Homo sapiens: one gene and its partners. The protein of the gene in region 1 purifies or fractionates together with the protein of each later gene. This does not show direct contact. Each region holds a gene or a part of one and is shown in the gene's direction. Other genes may lie near its edges.

Region 1 (5,368 bases):
TGGAACTCATCATACCTTATATTTGCAAGGAGCTTTGCAGTTTCAAAATGTTTTCATATATCTTATATTAGAACACCCAGCACAGCCCTGGACTCATAGTGGGTTCTCCATAAATGTGCATTTCTTTTTTTTTTTTTTTTTTTTGGTGATGGAGTCTTGCTCTCTCGCCCAGGCTGGAGTGCAGTGGCATGAGCTCGGCTCACTGCAAGCTCTGCTTCCCAGGTTCACGCCATTCTCCTGCCTCAGCCTCCCGAGTAGCTGGGACTACAGGCACCCGCCACCAAGCCTGGCTAATTGTTTTGTACTTTTAGTAGAGATGGGGTTTCACCGTGTTAGCCAGGATGGTCTTGATCTCCCGACCTTGTGATCCGCCCGCCTCGGCCTCCCATAGTGCTGGGATTACAGGCGTGAGCCACTGCACCTGGCCCATAAATGTACATTTCTACCTGCCTGTTTCTACCTGCTCTGTCTCTTGGATGAAGTCAGAGCTTGCTATGTTAGGCCCTTCACATTCTGGCCCAGTCTTTCTTTCTTCTACTCATACCAACTAATTTAACCAGATTATTCAATTCACTTTCTTAAACAGGCCTATGTTTTCCTGGTTCGACTGTATTCATACAGTTAAGCCCCAACATCTTCTCTTCTGTACACATGGTTTCAGTTGATCCTCAATAACAGATTAACAGTCTTGTAAATGAAACAGAGTAGGAGTTTTTTTTAGAAGGCTTGATTTAAGAGGGGGCTTGGGAGTCAGACTGCCTAGTTTTAAATTCCAGCTCCAATGTTTGCTTTCTGTGTGATCTTATGCAGCTAGCTATAACTTGAGGTTAATAGTATGTACCTCACAGGAAGATAAAAGTGAGTAATTCATGTAAAACACTTAACATGGTACCTGCTACATAGTGAACATACTATTTAAAGGTAAAGTTTAGGAGTTGAAGCTTGTTTTCTGAATCTGCTAGTATTTTCACCCCCTACAAAAAACTATTGTATTAGAAAGTGAAAAGTAGAACCAGATTCCATGGAAGAACCAGAGTGACTCTTCTGCTTTAAGACTTGATTTGGTATTAAAATTGGAATTTTATGTTAATTTAAAAGAGTATCCTACTTTCTGTTGAACTGGAAAATACTTCTAAAGGAATTTCTTGCTTGTTTTAGGCCTTTAGTTTGAACACAGGCAATGTGTTAAGAATCTGGGATATATATGTTAAATAAAGCACAGTTCTTGCCCTTAGGGACTATGGACATTTTTAACAATGTAAGATTTTCATGACTTCCAGTATGTTCCTGGTTCTGATTTTTTTGTCAATTATTTTAGAGTCATTAAAGTTGGTTAAATAAGATGCTTTATGCTCGGTCCTGGTTCTCAAAATGAATTTGATCCTAGAAGGTTATTTCTTTATTTAAGAAAATCATCTTTATCTTTTAATTACAGACGCAGGGACAGAGCTCATCGGGAAATCAAGGATATTTTCTATAAGGCAATCCAGAAACGCAGACAGTCTCAAGAAAAAATTGATGACATTCTCCAAACTTTACTAGATGCTACATACAAGTAAGAGCTATTCAGATAACATATTAAGCTGAAGCAGGAAATTACACATTAAAACACAGTTAAATAGTATTTCCAGTTAAAAAACAGTGATGCTGGCAAAATAAGTTGGTAGCTGTGATCTTTGGACTCTTTAAATTGTTGAGACATAAACTATTGGCATCCTGTGTCTTACTGTAATCCCAGTGACTGGGTATGGTAAAAGTTTGCTAATGAACTGTAATGGAGTCTTTTGTAATCAAAATCGTTTTGTGCTGGTCTGTCTCTTCCCTAAGAGAAAAAAAACTCTTGACTTGTGATAGTCAAATATAAGAGACCACTATACCTGAAAAATGTATTCATTATGACACTTTATTTAAAGGTTGAGGCATGAAATGTATCTGCCAAAATGTTAAATTTGTGTCTTTGGTTCATTCCTTAGGGATGGGCGTCCTTTGACTGATGATGAAGTAGCAGGGATGCTTATTGGATTACTCTTGGCAGGGCAGCATACATCCTCAACTACTAGTGCTTGGATGGGCTTCTTTTTGGCCAGAGACAAAACACTTCAAAAAAAATGTTATTTAGAACAGAAAACAGTCTGTGGAGAGAATCTGCCTCCTTTAACTTATGACCAGGTTTGTTGGATTTTTCAGTTTCATTGCTGCCTTATGACTTTGAGGATCTGTGGCTAATTTTTAAAAGGGACAATTTGAGATTTTCTATATACTATAGCTTAAATTGATCAGCTTCTCTATTTTTAGCAAATTCCCTATAACCTTACCTAAAATATCTTAATGTTATTGCTTCTTGCCATTAAGCTTTATCAGATATGTTTTGGGTTGATGGCTTAGAGATCCTTGGGGATGTTTCTTTGGTACTTACTTCCTCTGCTTCAAAGTCTGGCTTCTGTACATAGAGGATATTATGTGCATGTTGTGTGTCTTATGAAGTGTAGAAGCCTCTGAATTACTTAGAATTCTGTATGTCCAGAGTGGCCTGGGCATGAGCAGAGACTTCTAAAAGTAGTAGTAGTAGTAGTAATGAGGACAAGACATTTACAAATACTACATGCAACTTGCTGGGTGGAAAGGAAGAGAGGACAACTCACTGCACAACCTGACATTCCATCTTGGAAGCAAACCTTGGTGATGTCATCTTCCTGTTATCTTTTGTGCTTTTGGTCCTATATTAATATGGCACATTACACTGATTTTCAGATGTTAATTGTATTCCTGGGATAAATCCTACTTTGTCATGGTGCATAGTTCTTTCTATATGTTACTACATATAAACTTGCTGGTGTTTTGTTGAGGATTTTTGCATCTATATTCATAAAGGATATTGATCTCTAGTTTCACTGTGATGTCTTTGACTGGTTTTGATATCAGGATCATACTCATCTCATAGAATGTATTTGGAAGTATTCTTTTTTTCTTCTAATTTTTGGAAGAGTTTGTGGATGATTGGTGTTAATCCTTTTTTACATATTTGCAAAAATTCAGCAGTGAAATCATCTAGATCTGTGCTTTTCTTTCTGAGAAGACTTTACTTACTAATTCAATTTATTTGTTACAGGTTTATTCAGATATTCCATTTCTTCTTATGTCAGTTTCAGTAGTTTATATCTCTCTAGGAATTTGTCCATTTCATCTAGGTTACCTAATTTGTTGGCATACAATTGTTCATAGTATTCTCATAATCCTTTTTATTTCTGTAAGCTCAGTAGTGATGTCTCAACACTCATTCTTGTTTTTAGTAACTTAAAATAACAGCTTAACTGATATATTTACATAGCATAAATCCATCCATTTAAAATGTACACTTTGTGGTTTTTAGCATATTAAGAGTTGGGAAACCATCATCATAATTTAATTTTAGAACATTTACATCACTCCCAAAAGAGAGCTGGTACCCATTAGCAGTCATGCTTCATTCTCCCTGACTGCTGCCCCTGGCAACCATTAATCTCCTTTTGCCTCTGTGAGTTTGCCTATTCTGGATATTTCATGTAAATGGGATCATACAATTTGTAGTCTTTTGTGACTACCTTGTTTCACTTAGCATGTTATCAGGGTTCTTCCATGTTGTAGCATGTATCAGTACTTCAGTCTTTGTTATTACCAATAATATTCCATTATATGGATAGACCACATTTTGTTTATTTGTTCATCAGTTGATGGACATTTGAGTTGTTTCCACCTTTTAAACTATTATGAATAATGCCGCTCTAAACGTTTGTGTACTGATTTTATGTGGACATGTGTTTTCAATTTTGGGGGGTCATACCTAGGAGTAGAATTGCTGGGTTATAAGGTAACTTTGAAGAACTGCCAGACTGTTTTAAAAAGTGGCTGCACCACTTTCAAATCTCACTAAACAGTATATGTTGGTCCTGACTTCACCCCCTCACCAAACTTGTTACTTGATTTTTTTATTATAATAGGTGTGAAGTGATACTTTTTTTTTTTTTTTTGAGACAGAGTCTTGGTGTGATGCCCAGGCTCTAGTGCAATGGCGCGACCTTGGCTTACTGCAACCTCGGCTTCCCAGGTTCAAGCTATTCTCCTTCCTCAGCCTCCCAAGTAGCTGGGTACACACCACCACGCCTGGCTAATTTTTGTATTTTTGGTAGAGACAAGGTTGTACCATATTGGCCAGGCTGGTCTTGAACTCCTGACCTCAAGTCATCTGCCCGCCTTGGCCTCCCAAAGTGCTGGGATTACAGGTGTGAGCCACCATGCCCAGTTGGTATTTTGTTTTGATTTTGCATTTCCCTGGTGACTAGTGATGTTGAGTGTCTTATGATGTGTTCTTTGGCTTTGGTATACTTCTTTGGAGAAATGTCTGCTCACATCCTGTTCCCATATTTAAAATGAGTTGTCTTTTTATTATTGAGTTGTAAGAGTTCATCTATTTTTTTTTAATGTGCTTTTGGTGTCAGAGAAACTAATGCCTAATCAAAGTGTATGAAGATTTATTTCTGTGTATTCTTCTTAGTGTTTTGTAGTTTCATATCTTACATTTAGGTCTTTGATCCATTATGAATTAATTTATGTATATGATGTGAGGTCATCATTCTTTTGCATGTGTTTATCCAGTTGTCCCACACTGTTTGTTGAAAAGACTATTTTTTCCACGTTGAATTGTCTTTGTAAAAAAATCTATTATAGCCAGGCGCAGTGGCACGTGCCTGTATTCTCAGCTACTGAGAAGCTGAGATGGGAAGGTCGCTTGAGCTCAGGACTTGGGGTCCAGCCTGGGCAACATAGCGAAACCCTGTCTCTGAAAAAATAAATACATTTTAAAAAGCCTCTTGACCATAAATTTAAGGCTTTATTTCTGGACTCAGTTCTATTCCATTGATATGTTTAGTCTGATGCCATTACGTAGTTTTGTAATAAGTTTTGAATTCGGGAGTGTGAGTCCTCTGACTTTGTCCTTTTCAAGGCTGTTTATCTACTCCTAGTCCCTTTAGTTTCCATATGAATTTTGGGGTCAGTGTGTCAGTTTCTGCAAAGAAGCTAGCTGAGATTTTTGACAATGATTGCATTGTATCGCCATATTAATTTGGGAGCACAATTTTAGTCTTTAAATCTGTGAACATGAGATGTCTTTCTCTTATTTTAGTTCTTTAATTTCTTTCAACAATGTTTTATAGTTTTTGGTGCACAATGTTTAAACTTCTCTTGTTAAATGTATTCTTAAGTATTTTATTATTGTTATTTTTTTGATGTTATTCTTTCTTCTGCCAGTCCAAATCTGCTGTTGATCCCCTCGGGTGAATTTTTCATTTCAGTTCTCATACTTCTCAGTTCTTGAATTTCTATTTGGTTC
Region 2 (3,500 bases), on another chromosome or scaffold:
ACTGGGTAAGTGAATATATTTGAATAACCAGTTCAGATTTTGCTTATTTGCAGTTTACCATAGGTTAAATAGAAATGCAACAATTTACATGCCATAAACACACAAGCTTTAGGTGGTTTGGTTTGTTTTCCAGATGGGAATTAATGTGGTGGACTCCGCAGTATCCGGATTAGGTGGCTGCCCTTATGCAAAAGGTGCTTCTGGGAATGTAGCCACTGAGGATTTGATATATATGCTTAATGGCCTGGGGCTCAATACAGTAAGTTACTTTAACGTATTTTAATATTCATGCATTCCTTGCAGCTCCAAATTGCAAAGCTTCTAAGATGTGGGAAGCAATTTTGAGGTCAAAGTTTTACTACACTTTTGCTATTTGCTAAAATGCACAGTGGGAAAATGCAATAAAAATTCTTTTGGGGTCTTTATAAAGTAACTCATTGCTATAGCTCAATCACCAATAATGCTACCATTTCACATTTTTATAGTGCTTCATGACCTCTAAAGAACTTTTTCATGTATTATCTGATTTGATTTTATACACTTTGTGAGTTGGAGCCTGTGTCTTTGCTGTTACGATTGTTGAGTTTTGCAGTTTTGTTTTTTGTATGGATGTTTTTCTTGGAGAAAATGGAGATCTTGATTGTCTCAGTGACAACTGTAGCTTCTGGAAGAACTCCCAGGGCACTTTTTAAATGATCAGTGAAAGAGGGGAGCTTCATAACACTTAGCATATGAGACACTGGATGGCAAGAATAGTCTCTTTGCAAGTTGTACCGGAAAAGTCACGTGCTATGTAACCACATCCACCAAATTCAGCACCTTGTTTTGCCCTATGATTGTTAACACAACCTGTTAGTCTATAGAACCGATTTATTTAGGAAAAAAATAAAAATCACAGATGATTAGACATTTAGAATTTCTGAGATGTAAAATAATCATCTGTATTGTAAAATGAATTTTTTTACTCTCTGCTGCTCCTATTCCTCCTTTTTCCTCATTCTACTTACATTAATGCTCCGGCTGCATTAAACTTGCTTCTAGTCTACAGTTCTGTACCATTTTATTCCTCACTTCTACTCCTTGCTCAGGTTTTCACTACCATGTGAAATGGCCTTATGCCTCGTATTCCATTTGGCCTGGAAAGTAAGACACCACCATCCTAAAAATAAGCCGTCTGGCATCTCCCTGCCTATCCCCCAGGTCAAACTGTTAGGTCCCATTCCTTAGTGTTTTCATGTTTTCCTCTGAACTTACCACAAGGTTATATAATTATCTTGTTTATGTGTCTATCTTCCCATGCAACCACAGAGCAATTATGACAGCTTATTCATACTTTATACTTGGTGCCTGTGGCATAAAGATGCTCCATAAATATTTATTGAAAGACTGATTTCACTTGGCACTAAACACCAACAGCTGTTGCCCATAAACACCAAAAGCTATTGCCTATTTTCTCTGGTTAGAAATAAATGTTATTTCATTTACATCGTATCTTAATCATTTATATCAGAAGCTAATGACATAAATGAGGGTAAATAGCTCCTTTCTTAGAAATTTAGATGACTGAATCGAACTCCATAGCTGATAGCTGATGCTTAATATATGCCAGTTATGTTCCATAACTCTGGAGTCCAAATGCAAATAAATCAAGTTTATTCCTAAAAATTTCAACATCCAAGGGTTGCTACATTGAGTAGCTGCCACAATTCAACTAGTCACCCAAGGCAACAAACCAGGATTCTCTATAGAATTTAATCTCACTATGGATTCCATGTCCAATCAGTTACCAAGAGCTGCTAATCTGACTTTAAAATATTTTGGTTGTCCTTCCCTTACTACCTCTGCTATGACTACATTGATGCAGGTCTGCATCTCTTTCCTGGGTGTTCATCCTATATACTGGTCGCTGGCTCCAGACTTGCCTTTAAAATCTATCTTCCATGCTACCATCAAAGGGTTACACCTAACATATAAGTATGAATAGGCTCTACGTCTGCTTGAGCAAGGATCAGTGGATTCTAATTTCCTGAAAGGAAGCCTGTGCTCTATCACATAATCTGGCCTATTATTACCTTTTCCAGGGTTAATGGTATATTTTGCCTTTATCCATATACGCCATGGATATTTAAGATATCTTGGACTGCTCTTCTCTCTGCCTGCATACAGTGCCCCATATATCCTCCATCCTCTTTTATACATTTTGTATAAACCTCAGGTCAGGCTTTACCCTTCTTGGCACTTTTCCCTGACACATTCCTTTCTGCATTTTTTTTTCCTCAGTGGGTTGATGGCCTCATATCTCTGCCTCCGTAATAACCTGGGCATATCTCTATTTGTGGCTTTAACTATGGTACAGAATTTTCTGTTGTGAGTCCACATTGCTTGCTTGAACTTGAAGGCAGAAACCACATTCTACGTGAGGTTCTTGAAACTCCAGAATCTATCATAGTATACGAGACATATTTAAGCACCCGACAAATGATTTAAGAATACATGCAGTGTTGTTTCATAATGATATCTACTGGTTAAATAAAATGGTAGAGAAAAGCCAAAACAAAATTCTTCTTTGGTGCGATATCAACAAATTCTACTGTATAATTGTGACAAATGGACTTACTGAAAAGAGAAGAAAGACATTAATGACAAAAATCTTTCTGTCAACCCTTGCTGGATGTAATTTATAAGTGAAAGGCACCTGAAGTTAATTGTTTACAGAATTTAAGTATCATTGGATTAAGGATGTTAAACAGATACTCCACGTAAAGCCGTTACCACGACAAAACCAACTTTCTCAAACCAAAGCAAATGTTAGTATCCTGAAAACAACTTTGTAATAAAAAGACATCATGAAAATAATTTACAAGTATCACTTTACAAAATATTTTTAATTCTTAAAGAGATAAGTAATTAGCTATATCGAAATGTCTCCAATTTCTAAAATGATATTCATTGTTATGAAAAGCCCCTATGAGTTTTTATACTTGTCTATTTTATGAAAGTGACAAGTTTTCATAGATATTAAAAAGTACTTTATAATAGCAAGGAAAACTGAATATTTTCAATTTTAAGCCCACATTGTTTCTAGTCCATATTGAGGGGGAACATAGAAGCTTATGAAATGCCACATAAGGGCAAGTTTGTGCTTAATCCACTTAATGCTTTGCCTCCTCCGGTGACAACAAAAGTGCTGGGTGGAAACTTTGATAGTGACCCTTTCCTTACACTAAAGCCAAGAGCATGTCCTGAACTTGCCCTTTATACCCAGCTGCATATCTGTCATCCATGGATTTACCTGAGCTTTTGTTGATCCTATTTATACTTTCAGACAGTACAACCTCTCAGGCGAACAAGTTCCAGATGTGTACTAAATACCACTTCATTTTATTTCACTTGCAACTACCTCCTTCAATATCATACTAGTAATAGTATTTCTGGCCTTGGTTTAAAAAATATATATGTATATATATGCATACACCTTTTCTGTAATCCTTATGGCTTTT
Region 3 (3,500 bases), on another chromosome or scaffold:
GCCCCTACTCTCCCCTCTGAAATGCATTTCCCCTTCTAGATGAGACCACGGAACCTCACTTCCACTGTGAAGCCTGCTTCCACCCCACAGCCTCACCAGCTTCCACCCCACAGCCTAGCACTCCTGTGTGCCTGTTCTAGTCCTTTTACTTATGCTAACTGGTGCACATCTTGCTGTCTGTTCTAATAATCTGGTCTCCTTTCTGTCTTCTGCACAGTGAACTCTGAAGTACAAATCTAGGCTTTTCCCTCTCTGTTCCCAGACTCTAAAGGAAAGTACCTGGAGCACAGCAGCTGTTCAGTAAAGAATTGCTTGCCGGGCGCGGTGGCTCACGCCTGTAATCCCAGCACTTTGGGAGGCTGAGGTGGGTGGATCCTGAGGTCAGGAGATCGAGACCATCCTGGCTAACACGATGAAATCCCGTCTCTACTAAAAATACAAAAAATTAGCCGGGCATGGTGGCGGGCACCTGTAGTCCCAACTACTTGGGAGGCTGAGGCAGGAGAATGGCGTGAACCCGGGAGGCGGAGCTTGCAGTGAGCCGAGATTGCGCCACTGCACTCCAGCCTGGGCGACAGAGTGAGACTCCGTCTCAAAAAAAAAAAAAAAAGAATTGCTGAACTGGTTTGCCACTGGGCAGCTGGTGTCCCAGAGGACTCCATGGGGCATTCACATACATGCTCCAATGCAGGTTCCTGGCTGCCTGGCCCCTACTCTTCTTATCTCTGCCAATCCCTCAGGCTTTGGTCACTTTCTTTGTAGCTCTCACTTATTGAATGGCTAGCATGTGGCAGGCACTACGTATCATATTGCCTCATTGATTCTCATAACAACTCTATGGGTTGAATATGATTATTACTCCATTTAACAACTGAGGAAACTAAGGCCCAAAAACATCAAGTAATTTGCCCAGGGTCTTCAGCTAGAAAGTGACAAAGCCAAGTTGCCTGGATCTACCATTTCTGTTCTTTATTAAAATGGGAAGGTCACCAGAAGAGTAGAGTTTACACACACACATACACACACACACATGCACACGCATGCACACACGCGCACACACACTCACTCACCCTTTTAAGGACTCCCCTGCCTGGATAGTTTGCTGGACCTGGAAACACTGGATTCCATGTGTCTCCTACTACTTTTATCAGGGAGTCCCTCAAGCCAACATATGAGCCAACCCCGGAACAGACACACACCGGGCAGTGCTACCTGGCAGGGCCTGCTTCTGCCCCCACCCTGACACTTGGCTCTGTGATGATGGAGCCTGAGAGGCAGTCCTGATCCCACTGCCAGGGTCACCAGCCACAGATCCACTTCCATCATGTTCCTACCCTGACCTCCGTCCACACACCCTCCCTAACTAGTCCAGAAACCTTCTTCAGGAACTCTCTCAGGCACATGAGAACCTCCAGGAGGGCTCAGTCAGGACCTGAGCCAGCTGGACCAGGCCTCTTTCTGACACTGACACGGAGGAACAGGTGGTGGGTAAGCCGGGTGTCCTCCCCTAAGTTACGCTCAAGAGGAAGGGCTGTAACCTCACATGGCCTCTCAGCCTGGAATGTAGGTATGGTCATGTTCCTCCCATTTATATTTTTAGCGTGTACCTCCTTTGGGAGTAATGAGAGCCACACATTTGCTATTGGCTGTGTAAAGTCCCATTTCCTCTTTGCAAATGTCAAGTGTTATCTTAAGTTAGAGTTCATCCTGTCCTTGCCTTTTGCAATTACATAGTCTTTGTTGACTGAGAGCAATCCACAGTGACAGCCTAAATTATAATTCACATTGTACCTAATATAAATCAATCAGCATTCCAGCACACCTCTCGACAATTCAATTAAGTCAGAATTCATTGTGTGTTCGGCACTGTGACACTCATTAGTCACCAAGAACACAGCACAGGAGGGATCACACAGAAATCATCACTGTTTTTCTAATTTGCATCCTATCTTACTGGACCTAAGTCCTATTTACATAGGTTATCTCATTTAATTCATTCAACCAACATCTGAGATGAGTATTAAAAAAAAAGCTAAATACTTGTCAAAACGTTACAACAGATATGTCTATATATATGGGAGAACCAATCAAGAAGCAGATTTCAGGAGGACCTTTGGGGAAGGATTTTATACAGGACATGAGAAAGCAACATTAGAGGCTGGGCGCGGTGGCTCACACCTATAACCCCAGCACTTTGGGAGGCCGAGGCAGTTGGATTATGAGGTCAGGAGTTTGAGACCAGCCTGGCCAACATGGTGAAACCCCATCTCTATTAGAAAATACAAAAATTAGCCAGGGTGGTGGCAGGTGCCTATAATCCCAGCTACTCGGGAGGCTGAGGAAGGATAATTGCTTGAACCCGGGAGGTGGACATTGCAGTGAGCTGAGATCACACCGCTGTACTCCAGCCTGGGTGACAGAGCAAGACTTCGTCTCAGGGGGGCGGTGGGGTGGGGGAAGAAAGTGACATTAGGTTGTTTTGCAATATACAAGATTGGCTGTCTTCCCTTGATTCATTTATTCACTTCAATAATATTTATTGAAAACTTAGTATATACCAGGCACTGTTAAAAGGATTTGAAATATATCAGTGAACAGAACAGATGAAGGTCCCTCCCCTCATGCAATTTACATTCTAATGGGGGAGACAAAAAGCCATAGGCATAATGAATAAGTAAATTATATAATTTGTTAGAGGATAATCACTGCTAGTTTAAAAAAAAAAACCTAGAGTAGTGCAAGGGAGAAATGGTGGCAATTTTAAATAGGGTGGTCATGGAAATCCTTGTTAAGCAGATAACATTTGAGCAAAAACCTGAGAGAGATGACAGGTGAGGTCTGTGAATATCTGGGAAAAGCATATCAGACAGAGGAAAGAGCCAGTGCAAAGGCCCTGAGGTGGGGCCAGTGTGTTTGATGCACAGAAAGGAGGACAGTGGACCTGGAATGGAGAGAGGAAGGGGAGGGAATAGCAGGAGAGAAAGTTGGAGAGGTGACGAGGTAGCAAGATCATGTAGGGCCATAGCATATATTGTCTAGATACAGCCAAAAGGATTTTCTAAAGGGTTGGATATAGTATGTGAGAGAAAGAGAAGATCAAGGAAGACTCTAAGGCTTTTGGCCTGAGCAACTGGACAGGTGGTGCTGCTGTCAACTGAGACAAAGAAAGCTGCAGGTAGAGCTGCTTTCGGGGGACTAGGAAGTTCAGTGTTTGATGTTAGGTTTGCATCATCTGTGGACATTTGAATGGAGATGCTGCATAGGCAACTGGATATTTAAGTCTGAAATTCAGGAATGAGATCTGGGCCTGAGACATAAATTTGGGAGTTGGTTGTATGCAGATGATATTTAAAGCCATTGGATAGGATGAGCTCACCAAGTGAGTGAGTGTGGATGGAAGAGGGAATGGTTCAAGAGCGGAGCCCTGGGATACTTTAGTGGTGAGGAGTTGGAGAGGAAAGGAGGAAGCAGCAAAGGAGCTTGAAAAGGAACAATCATGA
Region 4 (3,500 bases), on another chromosome or scaffold:
GTATCCTTGATCTGTCTTGCTAGAGGTTTGTCTTTTTAATTAACTTTTGATATTGAAAATTTCCAAGCATACATAAGAGAGTGTAAAAAACTTGCAAGCACCCATTACTCAACTTTAACAACTATCCATATTTTGCCATATTTTTTTTTTTGCCTTATCTTTTTAAGAAATGTCTTATAGAGTGGGTGAGGTGGCCCATGCCTGTAATTCTTGCTCTCTGGGAGGTGGAGGTGGGAGGATCACTTGAGGCCAGGAGTTGGAGATGAACCTGGGCAACATAGAAAAACACTGTCTCTCTCTCTTTCTTTTTTTTGAGATGGAGTCTCACTTTGTCACCTAGGCTGGAGTGCAGTGGCGTGATCTTGGCTCATTGCAATCTCCACTTCTTCAGTTCAAGGAATTCTTGTGCCTCATCCTCCCAGGTAGCTGGGATTACAGGCATCCACCATCATGCCTGGCTAATTTTTGTGTTTTTAGTGGAGACTCCCAACATGGGGTTTTGCCATGTTGGCCAGGCTGGTCTCAAACTCCTGACCTCAAGTGATCTGCCCACCTCGGCCTCCCAAATTGCTGAAATTATGCACCTGGCCAGAAAGACCCTGTCTGTACCAAAAAAAGAAAAAAAAGTAGCGAGCCTATGGTCCTAGCTAACTCGGGAGGCTGAGGTGGGAGGATTCCTGGAGCCAAGAGTTCAAGGCTACAGTGAAATATGATTGTGCCCCGACACTCCAGCCTGGGTGACAGTGCAAGACCATGTCTCTATAAAAGATAGAAATAAAAAAAAAATCACTTCCATACAAAACTATAATATTACAAAATTAACAATAATTGGTTAATATCATCTAATAACTACTCCATAATAAAAATTTTCCCTATTGGGTAAAAATATATAGTGCAGTTGTTCTAATTGGTATCTAAACAAGTTGTACTCCTATTTGGTTCCTACATCTCAAGCTTTTCTAAATGTCTTGTAATCTAGAATAAGGGTTGACACATTTTTTTCTGTAAAGTGTTAGGTAGTAAATATTTTAGGCTTTGTATACCATGCTAAGTCTCTGTTGCTTATTCTTCTTTCTAAAAAACCCTTTAAAAATGTAAAACCTTTCTTAGTATGAGGGGCATACAAAAACAGGTATACTTTTGTCCACAGGCCATCATTTGTCAACTGCTGATCTGGAAGATCCCTCCTCACCATTTTTTTCTCCTTGCCATTGACTTGTTGAGGAAACTGGATCATTTGTTCACATTCTGGATTTTGTTGTGGTTTCCTTGTAGTGTCTTGTATTTTAATCCTCACATTTGTATTTTTGGTAGTCACAGTGTTTGATCTATAGGCTCAATTAGATTTAGTTTTTTTTTTTTTTTTTTCCTGTTGCGGGGAGTGGTGCAAGAAGACTTTAGTGATGCCATGTACATTCCATTGCATCACATCAGTGGATATGTAAGATAGGATTGCTTCACTTTTAATGGGTTCAGTTAATGTCCACCGATACTGTGTCCAACAAACTTACTCTTTGGTTTTACCATTTATTTATTTCTTGAATCAGTTACTTAATTATGGGTTACAACATGGTTATTCTCGAATTCTCTCATTTCTTCTGTATTTTTAAGTTTGATTCTTTTTTGTAGAATTGCTTTACTCCATCCGTTAGGTCTATTTAGTTATTCTGATAGATAGTTCAAATTGGAAAAGTAGGATAAATGCTTACTCTTTATCAATTTTTAGAGTAATAATTGGTACCCTACTAACCTCCATTAGTATCCAGTTAGAAGTTTGGTTGTTTTATTAATTTTTTCAAAGAACTAGCTTATATTTTGTTAATTTGTCATTGTTGTCTATTTTGTTGATTTCTGCTCTTGACTATTTCCTTCCTTTTCATGTGTTTGGATTTATTGTTTTTCCCCCCAAGTTTCTGAATGCTTAGCTTATTGGTTTTCAGTGTTTTTGTTGTTGTTGTTGTTTGTTTTTTTTTAATTATACTTTAAGTTCTGGGATACATGTGCAGAACATGTGGGTTTGTTACATAGGTATACATGTGCCATGGTGGTTTGCTGCACCCTCAATCCATCATCTACATTAGGTATTTCTCCTAATGCTATCCCTCCCCCAGTCCCCCACTCCCCAGCAGGTCCTGGTTTGTGATATTCCCCTCCCCTGTGTCTATGTGTTCTCATTGTTCAACTCCCACTTATGAGTAAGAACATGCAGTGTTTGGTTTTCTGTTCCTGTGTTAGTTTGCTGAAAATGATGGTTTCCAGCTTCATCCATGTTCCTGAAAAGGACATGAACTCATCCTTTTTTATGGCTGCCTAGTATTTCATGGTGATAGTATTTCCAGTCTATCACTGATGGGCATTTCGGTTGGTTCCAAGTCTCTGCTATTGTGTATAGTGCTGCAATACACAAACGTGTGCATGTGTCTTTATAGCAGAATGATTTATAATTCTTTGGGTATATACCCAGTAATGGGATTGCTGGGTCAAATGGTATTTCTGGTTCTAGATCCTTAAGGAATCACCACACTGTCTTCCACAATGGTGGAACTAATTTACACTCCCACCAACAGTGTAAAAGTGTTCCTGTTTCTCCACATCCTCTCCAGCACCTGTTGTTTCCTGACTTTTTAATGATCACCATTCTAACTAGCATGAAATGGTATCTCATTGTGGTTTTGATTTGCATTTCTCTAATGACCCGTGATGATGAGCTTTTTTTCATATGTTTGTTGGCTGCATAAATGTCTTCTTTTGAGAAGGATCTGTTTGTATCCTTCGCCCACTTTTTGATGGGGTTGTTTGTTTTTTTCTTGTAAATTTGTTTAACTTCCTTGTAGATTCTGGATATTAGCCCTTTCTCAGATGGATAGATTGCAGAAATTTTCTCCCATGCTGTAGGTTGCCTGTTCACTCTGATGATAGTTTCTTTTGCTGTGCAGAAGCTCTTTAGTTTAACTAGATCCCATTTGTCAATTTTGGCTTTGTTGCCATTGCTTTTGGTGTTTTAGTCGTGAAGTCTTTGCCCATGCCTGTGTCCTAAATGGTATTGCCTAGGTTTTATTCTAGGGTTTTTATGGTTTTGGGTCTTACGTTTAAGTGTTTAATCCATCTTTATTTGATTTTTGTATAAGGTGTAAGGAGGGGGTCCAGTTTCAGTTTTCTGCATATGGCTAGCCAGTTTTCCCAACACCATTTATTAAATAGGGAATCCTTTCTTCATTGCTTGTTTTTGTCAGGTTTGTCAAAGATCAGATGGTTGTAGATGTGTGGTGTTATTTCTGAGGCTTCTGTTCTGTTCCATTGGTCTATATATCTGTTTTGGTACCAGTACCTTGCTGTTTTGGTTACTGTAGCCTTGTAGTATAGTTTGAAGCCAGGCAGTTTGATGCCTCCAACTGTGTTCTTTTAGCTTAGGATTGTCTGGCTATATAGGCTCTTTTTTGTTTCCATATGAAATTTAAAGTATTTTTTTTTCTAATTCTGTTAAGAAAGTCAATGGTAGC

Evidence for each region.
Region 2: the proteins of CYP51A1 (region 1) and HMGCLL1 fractionate together in Homo sapiens (co-fractionation; one large-scale study listed by BioGRID). This does not show direct contact.
Region 3: the proteins of CYP51A1 (region 1) and POPDC2 purify together in Homo sapiens (co-immunoprecipitation; one large-scale study listed by IntAct). This does not show direct contact.
Region 4: the proteins of CYP51A1 (region 1) and SNX14 purify together in Homo sapiens (affinity purification with mass spectrometry; one large-scale study listed by BioGRID and IntAct). This does not show direct contact.

Annotation. Positions count from the first base shown.
Region 1 is NC_000007.14:92,119,921-92,125,288, reverse strand, and holds part of CYP51A1 (lanosterol 14-alpha demethylase), read left to right. Parts: intron 1-1,435; coding exon 1,436-1,555; intron 1,556-1,973; coding exon 1,974-2,169; intron 2,170-5,368. UniProt on the Homo sapiens protein: Sterol 14alpha-demethylase that plays a critical role in the cholesterol biosynthesis pathway, being cholesterol the major sterol component in mammalian membranes as well as a precursor for bile acid and steroid hormone synthesis.
Region 2 is NC_000006.12:55,436,193-55,439,692, reverse strand, and holds part of HMGCLL1 (3-hydroxymethyl-3-methylglutaryl-CoA lyase, cytoplasmic), read left to right. Parts: intron 1-133; coding exon 134-259; intron 260-3,500. UniProt on the Homo sapiens protein: Non-mitochondrial 3-hydroxy-3-methylglutaryl-CoA lyase that catalyzes a cation-dependent cleavage of (S)-3-hydroxy-3-methylglutaryl-CoA into acetyl-CoA and acetoacetate, a key step in ketogenesis, the products of which support energy production in nonhepatic animal tissues.
Region 3 is NC_000003.12:119,650,590-119,654,089, reverse strand, and holds part of POPDC2 (popeye domain-containing protein 2), read left to right. Parts: intron 1-3,500. UniProt on the Homo sapiens protein: Important for the maintenance of cardiac function.
Region 4 is NC_000006.12:85,583,859-85,587,358, reverse strand, and holds part of SNX14 (sorting nexin-14), read left to right. Parts: intron 1-3,500. UniProt on the Homo sapiens protein: Plays a role in maintaining normal neuronal excitability and synaptic transmission. May be involved in several stages of intracellular trafficking. Required for autophagosome clearance, possibly by mediating the fusion of lysosomes with autophagosomes.